3 separate regions of the Homo sapiens genome follow, and all the other regions are linked to region 3. The links come from fine-mapping of genetic effects on gene expression. A gene starts in region 3. Each other region holds a variant in brackets. All regions are shown on one strand. Distances are between the middles of the regions.

Region 1 (4,243 bases), 110 kb before region 3:
TAATACTCCTGGAGCAAGTGGTCCATGGACCACAGTCTGAGAAACACTGATGTCAGTGGAGCACTAGTGTGCAAACTCCAAGTGGCCCCCTTCATCCGTGGTTTAAAGATGCTGCTGTTGCTGGCACAAGTCCCAGGAGATCCAGTGTTTCCTTCTTTACTAACAGGGTCTGTTACTGGCATAATCTGAGGAACATTCAGAAGTCTTTCTCGACTAAGAAGATCTCCAAGGAGCAGCTGCATCTAGAGTTCTAAGGACTTAGCTTCTCCTGTACTCCTTTTAAATCACAGATAGCTACAGAGAACAGCACTTCTGTTGTTCAGTCTTTATTTTTCATAAGGGAAAAAGCCCACTGTGGCATACCTGCAGCAAGTGAAAGTGTAAATACAGCTCCTCTGTCTGCATACTCCACCCTATCAGAGCCCTGGGCTCTCCTCACAGCCCCCACCTTTCTCTGTCCCCAAAGGCTGTACCCAAGATGTACAGACCTAGTAAGAAATGCTTTTAGAGTGTCAAGTGAGTTTTTTCTTCTTTCGGACATCTCTATTAACAAAATCCTAAAGAAAATCAATGGATTCCTATTTCCTCATCCATTCATACCATCAGATCCTTCTCAAATTGACCACAGAATCAGTGGCCGTCACAATGAAATTGACTGCATATGAAATGAATCTGAAAATTCCATTTATTAAAACACATACATTGTCCATGTGGGATGAAAATGTGCACATCACATTCAGGTTTTCCTGCTTTAACATTTCTGTAGTTCTCTCTTTGAAACACACACTCCACAGATCTTATATAGGAAAAATGTGAACAACTTTTGGGCTGCAAAACATTAATGCATACATAACAATTCATCATTGCCAAGAGCAGCTAGAAGCAAATATTAAGGAAGAAAGACAAAGAAGTATAAAAATTCCTAAAGACAGCATGCTTTATTTTCTCAAAATTCCATATGTGACTATGAGCGTATGGAGAAATCGTTTGATTTTTAAATTTATTGTTTTGTCCTTGGTAGGCAATCTCCTTCAAATATTATTAGCAAAATCAAACATAGATCAAAGTATGTATTTGCATCTTCTGATTGAAATTAAACAGTACTTGGTTTCAAATGTTTTAAAAATAACACTTTTTAAACTGGAGTTGATATTGAGGATCATGTAAAATTATTCTTTATAGACTTTGCATTCTAAATATGAAGTTTATTGTTACTACTTATTAGTTAATTCCACGGCAGATTTTCATTTCTATCGAATATATTATATGTAGAAACTAGGGCCTTAAATAATTAAGCTGACTTTTCCTATTAGTTATTCCTTAAGATAAAATTATGCTGGTGAAAATGACTGTTGAATTTCTCAAGAAATTAAGCTCTATAGAGGCATAAGTAATCGAAAGACTTTTTCCCCTGAATAAGTACAAATACCAAGAAGCCAAAACTCATATAAAGATTTTCGTATTATAATTCCATACTGTAAGACATAAAATTATGAAAAAGCCAAAACATTTTCCTTAAAATGCTCCCTAGAAATTGTAATTCCATCTTAATTGCTCCAAAGATCTAGATTTACATGGAAATATAAAGAGTCCTTCTGAGAAAAGGAAATGCTGTGAATAGTGGAAATCGTCTGGGCCTTCTAATGATGCCTCAGTCACCACCAAAGAGTGTTTTATTCATTCATCCGTGTTTTCATGTGACCACATACTCAATTCATGTTTTGGCCCATGTAAAAACTGTGATATGTTTTAGCTTATTCCATAGTGTTACTAAGCTAATTGTACAATGCTGTAGTTTAATAAATACTCTGCTGTTTTTTTCACCCCTAAATCTTCATGGGCGTCCTAACTGTAACAAAAACCCCACAATTTGAACAGAAGAACAGAAGTATCTGGTTACAGAAGTGCATTCATACATTTCACAAATGTTTCAGTATCCTCTTCTCCCCGACCCCAGCATGAGCTTTAATTGGATGTATTTATTCTTTCACCAGCATGCCCATGAAGGAGCTAAGGAAAACATTTACCAAGTCTGTTTCAAAATCTGTCCTTGGCATATCAAACTTTTTCTCTTCCTTTTTCATGCTTTTTTTTTAAAAAAAAAACAGGAGAAAGCGAATAGAGAGGAAAGAGA[C/G]AATAAAATTAATTGGGAGATGGAGATGATATTTGGGGATTTGAAAGCAAACAAGATGTAAGAGAGGCCCTCTTTGACTGAAAATGACACAGAAAAAGGTGATCAAGTCTTCCAGGGCCTGCTGTTACTGATGGAGACTACAGCTACAATGAAAAATTACTCTCACTACCATATCTTGGGGAAGGAGCGCTCTAGTTGCAAGGAATTTGTAAATAAAGGCCGAGAGACTCTAACAAACAAGATGGAGAACAAAAACAAAGATTCCATTAAAAAATTTGTTAAGTGAAAAACCAAGACCATCTCAGTGGACAAAAGAGCCAGAACTCTTCCTCGTAGAGCCGGCCGTGGGGACCGCACCTGCCGCCCAAAGAGTGGCGATTTGAGGTCCTTCTCCCTGGAGAGTGAATAGCTGGAGTTCTGAGAATGGTCACCTTCTCTGGAGCTGTGGGTTTATTTCTTCTGATACTTGAACAAAGGAGGGCCATGGTTTTCTTGTTAAGAGCACAAAAAAATGTTCTTTTAATCTAGAATGTCCATGATTCAGGGAAAGAGGGAATTTGCTCATACTCATGGCAAAAGCATTTCCCAGCTCATGGTGAATCCTTAACTCTCCTGCTTGGTGACAGCTGTGCTGCCCTGGGTCCTGGATAAACCAAAATGCTTTGGATTCTGGAAAACGTATTGAAGAGGCATTTATACCACTATTAACTAGGAGGTATTTTAGGTGTGGCTAAGGCTCTGAAGTAATCTCAATTTTCAAAATACTGAGATTTTCTTCCCTCTCCGGGGTCTTTTCCCTCTCATTTCCTTTCCCAGCTTTAGAGTAAAACAACAAAACTTCTGAATGGATGTAACATAGGGACATTTTCATGCAATATTACTCAAAAATTGTCACAAATATATGAAAGCACCAGTCACAACACAGGATTTACTTTTACTTGCAGAATCAAAGCTATCATGTACACATGTTAGGAATAGTGAAAAGAGAACACAGACAACCGGCATTTTTTGTCGTTGTTACCATGAGGATACACCACGGGGAACATCTCCCTAAACATTTTGTGTGATCATTCTTGGAGTTCAATCTGATAGACCAGTCCAGCCTTATCTCCACACTACTCTAATGGGGAGGGGTGGAAGGAGGGGTAGAGGAGAAGGAAGAAAGAAAAAGAAAGGCACAGTGACTATACATCAATGCCATTAAACCGAATTGCATCTACACGGGACAGCTCAGCTTATCAAAGGGTATTCTAAAGACAATATTCATTCCAAGAAGGTCACACATATCTTACCTCAGTACAGCTGTCTGTTTTAATTGTTATTTTTCAAAATATGAAGCAGAAACATGAGGATTTTGGGGGGGGGGCTGGGGGATAGCAGAAAAGAAGTGACACCAATTTTATTTTTATATATTCCCCTCCTCCAGGCAGTTCGTCAGAATCAGATCTCTTAAGTCAGGATGTGGATCGGCTTGCATTCTCATAAAGGGGACCAGATCTTTAAACATGCATAGCCTAGAGTTTCCAGAATGGTTCTCCTCGCTCTCTTCAAATGCCGTGGACTAGAAAGGTGCCCACTTCACTAAAAACTCTACATCAATGTCCCAGGAGCCCGGAGGCTCTTCAGGCCCCTCTCAAAGACTTAAAGGATGGCACAGAAAAACTTCTTCTCCCTAAACGGGTTTTCTGAAGCCGGAACAGGGGTCAGGAGGGGGTCTTCCTTGGCATGTGCTTCACAGTAGGCCATCAAATCTGCAGCTGCCTTGGACACCTGGAAAGGGAGACAAAAACAACCAACACTGGAGTCTGGTACAGTCAGTCAAGGCCCAAGGCTTTAGAGCCCAATGTCCTGGCATCAAATCCTTGCTCCATGAAGCAAGATACTCAGCCTCTAAAAGCTTCTGCTTCCTCATCTGCAAAGAAGAAAGTTGACGACACTGACCTTACAGGATTGTTGCCAGCAAGTCTGGGACTAGGTTAAGGTGAGTGAGGCACTTAGGGTGCAGAACCGAAGGAGGCACTCGCTGGCAGGGGCATGCAGGTGTCAACCCTGCACTTCCATAGCCCCGCAGGTGGCTGTCTCCTTCATTTGTTTTTTTTTTTTTTTTTT
Region 2 (4,243 bases), 53 kb before region 3:
AAACCTGGATGTAGCATTCTGCAGTGTGTCTTTGTCTGGGAACAGAGTACAGCAGCTGTTTCCTAAGTTCTAAACACAGACCCATAATTCACATATGTAGGCAAAAGTGATTCAGGCTAAGTATGTGTTCCTTTCAAAGCACTAATTTAAAGAAATACCACTTTTTTTTCCAAATAGCATTTAGTCACAAAATATTTTAGAAAAATACCAATTTTCTGTTGTGGGGAAATCGTTTAAGGGCTGGGCTGAAATTCAGAGGAAGACTTTTGTTTCTTCTTTTAAATAAAAAGTCACTTTATAAAAGAGAACGGATGGCTTCTAACGTATCATATTTACCCATTTCCCCTCCCTAATTTTCCATTTACCCCAAATTCGATTTGTTTCCTTGCTGCCTCTTTAAGTCCCTCCCATATCCTCAGAGCAGCTTAGGTGTCTTTTGTGAATTCATTTATGCTCTTTGTTCCATTCATCCTATTTAGGGCAGTAACAGTTTACAAGAAGCAAAACACATTATAAGTTAGTCATAATTATTACACTGAAATGCATCCTCTCCCTCATAATGTAGCAGAGGTGTAATATGACAAAATAGAAGTTTCTCAATCCAAAGCTGCCATCCTTATCTATGAACCAGTAAACTGCCCTTCACAGAAGGCCTTGGCTTTTTACCTTTAAGGATGATGCCCTTATTCTAAGAAAAGAACAAAGAAGGTTAGTGGGAGTACAGGGAAGAGACAACTGAATTGATTCATACACTTAAGCTCTAAACGTGGCCAACATCTCTTAGTAGCTGAAGTGAAATGGTAAATACTTTGGGTTACATAGTTTTCTGATAAAGTAAAGGCAAAGCAAATGCCTAAGTAGAAAGAAATGACCCTGAACTTTTAAACTCAAGCAAGCAGTCATGGAGTGACAGGCTTTTTGGCCTTGCCTGATGACAGTGTACATGACAGAAAGGCATGATGGCAGGGCATGTATCATCTTTGTCCATTTCCCCCCAATTGAGACCCCAATCGTACCATCTTCAGGTTTCTTCCAAAGTTATGCGTAAGTGAGTGACTCTCGTCAGCATCAAAGACCAGTATTTGGTCTGTATTACATTTGAAAACACAAAAAAACATAAAGAACTCTTCAAATGAAATCTGATGAAGCTAATAGCCCATGAGGATCAGTTCAACAAGTTGCATCAGCAAAGACCTCTCTTTGTTACCGGATCTACCAGATCCAGGCCGCAAAGGAGCTCCCTTAGACTGCTTTAATTAGGTATTTCACTTACAAATGAATTAATTAATTAGAGATAAGCACCTGAAAGCACATTACTCATGTGGTCTAGTTAAAGCTTTAAATAGATACAAAACTGCCGACACCTCATTACTATTAGGTAATTCTACACGGGACTTAACACCCAAGATGATTTACCAAACCTCGTGCCAAAACAGCATTCATTCTAATCCCTCCCGCACCTTGGGAACCTTAGCACAAGGATCCTTCAAGAAGATTCAGGGAGAAAGGATTAGAGCAGGAGCTATGGTTACTGTGGCCTGTGTTTCTTCATCAGTTTTTCTTTCAGACATAATGAAATGGCCTGAGACGGCAGTCCTTTTCCATTCTACCTTGGTCTGGCTTGTCCGTTTTATGTTGCCTAATAACTCCATTCAATGGCACAGTCATTTCTGGCAGCCTCCAGCTAGAATCAGAGTGGTGGCAGACATACTCAAGAGCCAATATGGAATGACTCCATTCCCCCAAAAACAAGATGATTGCAATTTCAATATCTTCTGCAAAAGTAGATAAAAAGGCAAGCAAGCAAACAAAACACCTTGAACTTTATATTGGATACAGTGACTCCCAGTTTTAAGCACACATGGAAATTCTTACCTACAGATAAAATTTTAGTGATATTCTTCCCATTGTTTTTCATATATATGAAATGAAACATATGTATGAAAAAGGTATTTGGATATATGTAACTTTTATGCATACATTATATATGCAACATATGCATAAATTATATACATGCAACATTTTCATTGTTGGTGGTCAGTTTTAAGGGAGAATATAGAGTACTTT[A/C]ATCCTAATAATAGAACTTGTAAATGTAACTTAAAGGATGTCACCTCCACTCCCACAGTAACTTCTAGTTTTACAGCAGTACTAAGAGCTCTGTGCTTATTCCTTTATCTAGAGCACAGCTTTTTGATCAGTTGCTCCTCCATACAACCTCTAGACCTCCTCTCTACATCTCTGCTTCTTCCCTGATCTCAAAGGTGATGACAATGGGGGAAAGGACCATTCATCCTGTACTGCCCTCTCATCCTATGATCCCATGGCACCTGTTCTTTCCGCTCTCCCCCATAAACTTATTTGTTTATTTTTAGAGACAGGGTCTCACTCTGTCACCCAGACTGGAGTGCAGTGATACGACCTTAACTCACTGTAACCTCTAACTCCCGGGCTCAAGCAAGCTTTCTGCCTCATCCTCCCAAGTAGTTGGGACTACAGGCACAAGCCACCACACTGGCTAATTTTCTTTTTTAAAAATTTTTGAGAAAGGAGGTCTTGCCATGTTTCCTGTGCTGGTCTCAAACTCCTGGCCCCAAGGGAGCTTACTGCCTCAGTTTCCCAAAGTGTTGGTATTACAGGCATGAGCCACCATACCCGGCCTACTTTTTAATGCTTCTATCATCCTCCAACTTATTAACTTTTAAAAAACATAAACATACATTACAGGTGAAAGAATAAAACAAGGAACACCCACTTACCAACCACCTAGAGTTAACAATGGTCACTTTTGCTTCCCCATCCCTCTGTCTCTCCTGCCATTTGAAACTAGGTAGCAGACATCACGAGACTTCATTCCTGAACACTTCACAGTATCATCCCTTTGAAAGCAGAAACATAAGCTTACAGGTTCAATTAATTAATTTCTAGCCGATTTAGTGAGCTTCAGCAGTTTTACTTAAACATTTGTTTTCATTTTTCTTGGGCTATCTTCCACCTCAAAGAAACAAAACACACACATACACACACACACCCCCACCCCCACCCCCAAAACCAAGCCAGTAGCTGAAATACACGTTGCAGCATAATATCTGATGTAAGGTTTTTATAAGGACTGCCCACACAATGTTGTTCACCTGTGTGGGGCCTTTGGCCTCATATTAGAATCACTGACATCTTAGAAGAAAGCATCCAGGCTGGTAACCTTGTAGGGAATAGCTCTCTCGAGAATGTCAGACTTGGTCAATTATGCAATTGTTTTGGGAATTTTACCCCTGGGCACTTCTGGTTTGTCTGAAGAAGCCCAGCAGTAATGAAAGTGGACAGGACTCCACCCACAGAGGAGTTTTGTCCTGGAGATGGTGTTAGGCATCTCTGGAAAGACCTCTGCTCAACCTTCACCAACCAGGGCAGCCGTAGCAACAGCAGGAAGTGACAGTCTCTTCCTCACCTAACTGGAATCAGTGAGGGTGTAACATTATCAGGACACATTCAGTATTTAGGCTGAGCCACTGGAATTAAGGGATTTTGGGGGTTGGGGTGTGGGGATAGAAGATGGGAGCAGCTCACAGTCCTGCCTAAGGTACAAGGGAATCTTAGTGCTCTCTTCCTTTTCTGGCCATTCTTACTATATCTCCCCCATTCTTTCTTCCCCATCTCCCAAGAATAATGAAAGCTAACATTTATATATGGCTGAGAGGCAGTGCAGCAAAGTGGTCAAGAGCTTGGGCTCTGGGCCACACTGCCCAAGTTTGAGTCTCAGTTCTGCCATTTACTCAATAGGTGATGCTGGGCAAGTTACTTAACCTGTGTGCCTCCATTTCCTCATCTTGAAAGTGGGGATGATAACACCACCACATATTTCCTGGGAGCTTGTGAAGAGTAAATAATATATGTAAAGTACCTAGAACAGTGCCTGACACTATTAGCTATACTTTTTTTCATTTACTAAGCAATTACTTTATATAAAGCCCTTTTCATGATTCAACTCCTTTAATCTAACAATAACAACAAAAAAAAAAAACATAAGAAAAGGCTATCAGGATGGGCATGGTGGCTCACGCCTGTAATCCCAGTGCTTTGGGAGGCCAAAGTAGGCAGATCACTGGAGGCTAGGAGTTTGGAGACCGGTCTGGGAAATATAGTGAGACCCTGTCTCTATAAATGTTTTTTTAAAAAATTAGCCAGGCTTGGTGGCATACACCTGTAGTCTTAGCTACCCAGGAGGCTGAGGTGGGAGGATTACATG
Region 3 (4,243 bases):
AATACCCCAGGAAAAATCATTAAGTCTTTCAATATTCCATATGGCCAGAATAAGTGGAAATAGTTTCATTTTACAATGTAGAAGCATATTCATCTTTTTCCTAAACATTCTACCATCATAGTTACTGATCTGCTGTTACTCACTAATGTTCTGCTTCAAGCTGGAATTTAACGATTAAGAAATGTTTTGTGCTGTGCAGAAAATAGGCACCTCTTAGTTGTTTTCAGAAAGATAGCAAGGCCCTCTTGACTCTACTATGCCCGTCGGGCAAGGTTTCATTTTCTTACTCATGTGTGAAACACACACAGAAGACTAATGCAGATTGTCTGTGCCTCCCCAAACAAAGTAGGGTGTTGGCATTATCTAGTGAATACAGCCTGCAGAGGAGTAAGTACCAAAGGGTAAGCCTGTCCTTATCCATGCAGCTCAGGTTGCCAACTTTTTACTTCATTTCATGATGCACAGCTTGATTCTAGAACTCCACTGGGTCATTCTGGATCGAAGATCTATCCTAGGTCTCTTCTCTAAGAAGATGATCTTTACATACTTCCCTTTAAGATGCAAATAGGAAGTGGAACTGCAAAATCCATGTCACGACTTGTTTTGCCCACAAGTTTGATTAAATTCAGTGAATCCTTCAAGGAGTTCCATGGTTTCAATACTAGCAGTACTTTGTCTCTTAGGCATGGTGCAGGTTTACTTTAATGAGCAAAAAACCTCTGAGAAATAGACTTTTTTTTTCTTTAGTAGCTATAAAAGCTTCCCATCTCTCAAAATGTGCTGCTACTCCACAGATTTTGAGAAGCCATATCGATTTCATAAAGATAGCATTAAAAATAGCCCTATAGCTCTTAACAAGTGAGAACGATGATAAAGGAGGAGGCATATACATACATACACTCTCAACTAGCATATTTGGTATCTAAGAACCTATGTTTCAAGAATCTGTGAGTGTCAAAATATTGACTTTTTTTAAATTTTTACTCCACTATAAGCAGTTTTTTCTCTTTCTTTTGAAAAATTATCTCCTTTCATTATAGAAACTCTAGAAGAAAAACCCTTTTATCAATGACTACTTACTGCTTAACTGTACTTTCTGTTGAAGATTAAAAAAGCTTAATTCTTTAAATCGTGCTGCATGAGGGTATTAAACTCCCTAATATATCCTGTCAGAGGAATCTCACAATCTCAGTTCTCATCTGCTAGACCTATTTAGTGTACTTTTACATATCATTCATAAATATGAACAAGTCATAGACCCAGGCTCTCATTAAGAACATCCTTTGCTCAAGAAAATCAAAGAATAAAAATCATGTTCTGGTTTTACTACTTCAGTCTATCTACCAGATATTCGCGTAAGGAAACAACCCAGCTGCACTTTTTTATTTTGTCCCTCACCGAGGCTAACATGCACCTTGACCTAGAGGTGAATAAAATGCATATAAACATAAAATCCATGCATATGCTAGTATCTGATTCTGGACAAGTTACTGGCCTTAAACCCGCCACGCTCCTTTGAACAAGGATGCAACTTTAGGATAAGACCTACTGGCAAATGATAGCTGTGTCTGAGGTTATCCTGAAAGCAGCTGCACAAGCTGAGGGAGGAAGACACTGTTTTTTAATGGTAAATACTGCCCCTCACATACGCAATTCAAGCCTTTGTTGGCAAAATCTAAGTACAAAAGAATTTAACTCCCCCAAAAGCCAAATCACAGCCATTATTTTTGCAAAACAGAAGATATCCCAGTGCAATGTGTAAGAAAGAGAATGCAATTAATATTTTACACCACTCACTCCCCTAAAACAAGGGGACTGCCGGGCTCCGATGACCAGACCACAGCTTCACAGCCCCAGATGGATTTCGACTCAGCCCTGGTTTTCCTCCGAGAGAACTATACAAACAGCTTCTTGTATTTAGCATGTTGGCCTGTTTAGTCATCAAATCTAAGCACTGATGATGAGGTTTTTTTAAATCAAATGTGTCATAAATGTGGTTATTCTCAAAGACCCTTCCAAAAGAATCTAATCATTTCCCCTAGTCCTGAAGCGATGTCTCTATCATCCCTTAGAAATCGGACCTTAAAACCACAAGCGACGGTCGTTTTTCTCAATTAAAAACGAGCAACATGGAAAACGTTTCATTTACCTTAGCTCCCGAGGCTTGGTCCGAGGAGCGTGGTTTTCCCCTCTCCGGAGCTGATCTGTGCAGGCGAGCTCCGGCGCAGCCCAGCCCAGCCCAGCCCAGCCCAGCAGTAGTAGGAGTTGCCCACGGAGCGCGGCGGCAGCGTTGTGAGTATGTGTAGCAGCGGCTGCAGCCCAGGGACTAGTCCCCACCCAGCTTTGTCTTCAATCAACGTTCTTTCTACAGGAAGCAGCGCATCTCCCACTTCCTCCTCTTCTTGGTAGCTGTTAGCGGCTTGCTTCTTTTCCCTCTCATTTCCATTTCAGGGCTTACTCTGGTGGTTTTGTCTGCTCCTGGGCTGCTGACAGTGATTTGACTTTAATCCCCCTTCTCCCTTTGTTCAAGTCCCTCTGGTGCTGTCTGTTCCTTCCTTCCCCTTTTCTCATCCCCCCACGGTCACCTCCACGACAGCTTCCACACACTGCTCAGTCGGCCCCCTTCCTGGCACACTGCCTGCTTTTTTAGCCTGAACCTGGCTTGTTGCTATTGTTGTTCTTGCTGTTGTTGTTTCTACTGCTGCTGCTGTTTTTTTTTGGGTCAACATCCCCTGGCCAGGTTCTGGCCCCCGAGATCCCACACCAGCCTCCACTGTTCCTCCTGATTTACTGTGGTCCCCATCAAGCCAGCTAGCTGGGAGCTTGCAGCTTGCAGCTTGCAGCTTCTCACTGCAGCATTTTTCTCTGTGGCCAACATTTCAGAGGCTTCATTTCTCCAAGGTCCCACTACCACTGAGATCTTACTTAACCCACATGCTCAGAAAAGAATGGCCCTGATAAGTATTCTTATGGGGCACGGGAACTAAACCAAGTTGGCAATGCTACCTATAGGCCTAATAGTGAGGACTATTCCCAAAAGATTCTCATAGATGGGAAGGAATGAGGTGGTGCTGAATGCTGCACATTCCCAACAGAGAAACTGAATACTCCTCTCCCCATTCCACACACACTAGTAGGGCTGAAGGACCCTCATGATCCTCCAGTCCCTTCCCTTCATCTTAGGAGGTAATATCGTAGAACCCACCAGGGTAGAGCCTGCAAGCTGTCTCTGTCTGCCAGAATTTCAATCCAAATTGCCATTAATGACTGTATGAACTTGGGCAAATTATTTAACATCTATGTGCCTCAGTTTCCTCATCTGCAAAACATAGTTGATGATAGTCATGCTCTACATTGGAAATATGAGGATTAAATGAGATGGTATACAAGGTGCTAATAATAGTTCTGGGGATATAGGACGTATTCGGCACATATTAACTCTTATTATTTTTAGAGGATGTTGGGCCTCACATTCAGCAAGTGATTTCGCCAGTCAGCAGCCGAACCCTCACCAGTACTTGGTTTTCCAATTCCTCACTATTAGTATGTTCACAATTGAGCCCAGATGCTTTAATAACAATTTATTCAACGTGTGAGTCATTCTCCCCCTAGTACTAACACAAGGTACTTTGGGGAAGCTACAGATTAAACATGAGATGGGGGAAGGGGAATCCTGTTCTAGTGTCCAGGCAACATTATGGAGTTAAAAACAAAAACAACAACAACAAAAAACACCTCTTCTCAGGAATCAGTGCCTGGAAAGCTAATCTTGCCAGGAAACAGTTAATTCCCCAACTCCTCCTTTTTAATCCAGTTTTGCCTTAATCCTCCAGCAAGTAAACTAACAGGAAATGTTAGAAATCTAGGACTGATGGAGAATAACTCTCCAGTTGAGCCTTCCAAACACATCGTGAGGACCACAGCACGTTAACCTAGAAGGTACAGAATTTAATTTCTATGAAATGTTCTGAGACAGTCCCAAAACACCCTTTGTTTTGATTTGAACAGTTTGCTTATTTTTTCAAGGAAATCTTTCATCAAAAAGGACCCTGATGTCAACTCACTCACACCTGAAAATTACAAAATGGATTGATTTAAGATTGAAAATGAGCAACTAGCTTTGATCCACCAGCAGATAGAAATGCAGTAGTGAGAGGGATTGGGCATGAATCCACCAACATGTGAGTTATCTCCAAACCAGGAACCCTTGTGCCAAAGGTTACCAGGAACTTTTAAATGTAAA

Evidence for each region. PIP is the estimated chance that this variant, and not a neighbour inherited with it, causes the effect.
Region 1: its variant is the best candidate, but not a certain one, in a credible set for the expression of GNG2 in whole blood (TOPMed, PIP 0.74).
Region 2: its variant is the best candidate, but not a certain one, in a credible set for the expression of GNG2 in monocytes after LPS (Quach 2016, PIP 0.55).

The regions. Positions count from the first base shown.
Region 1 is chr14:51,966,220-51,970,462 of GRCh38, reverse strand. It overlaps GNG2 (G protein subunit gamma 2), which reads right to left. Exons shown (of 4, transcript NM_053064.5): 4 at 668-3,904. The coding sequence ends at 3,776. Among named protein-coding and RNA genes, the nearest start is that of RTRAF, 21 kb to the left of the region's middle. The variant C/G (reference allele first, on the strand shown) is at 2,135.
Region 2 is chr14:51,911,642-51,915,884 of GRCh38, reverse strand. The region is part of intron 2 of GNG2 (G protein subunit gamma 2); the gene reads right to left. Among named protein-coding and RNA genes, the nearest start is that of GNG2, 53 kb to the right of the region's middle. The variant A/C (reference allele first, on the strand shown) is at 2,068.
Region 3 is chr14:51,858,697-51,862,939 of GRCh38, reverse strand. GNG2 (G protein subunit gamma 2) reads right to left here and starts at 2,328. Exons shown (of 4, transcript NM_053064.5): 1 at 2,150-2,328. RefSeq lists enhancers at 2,212-2,421, 2,208-2,709 and a silencer at 2,762-2,841.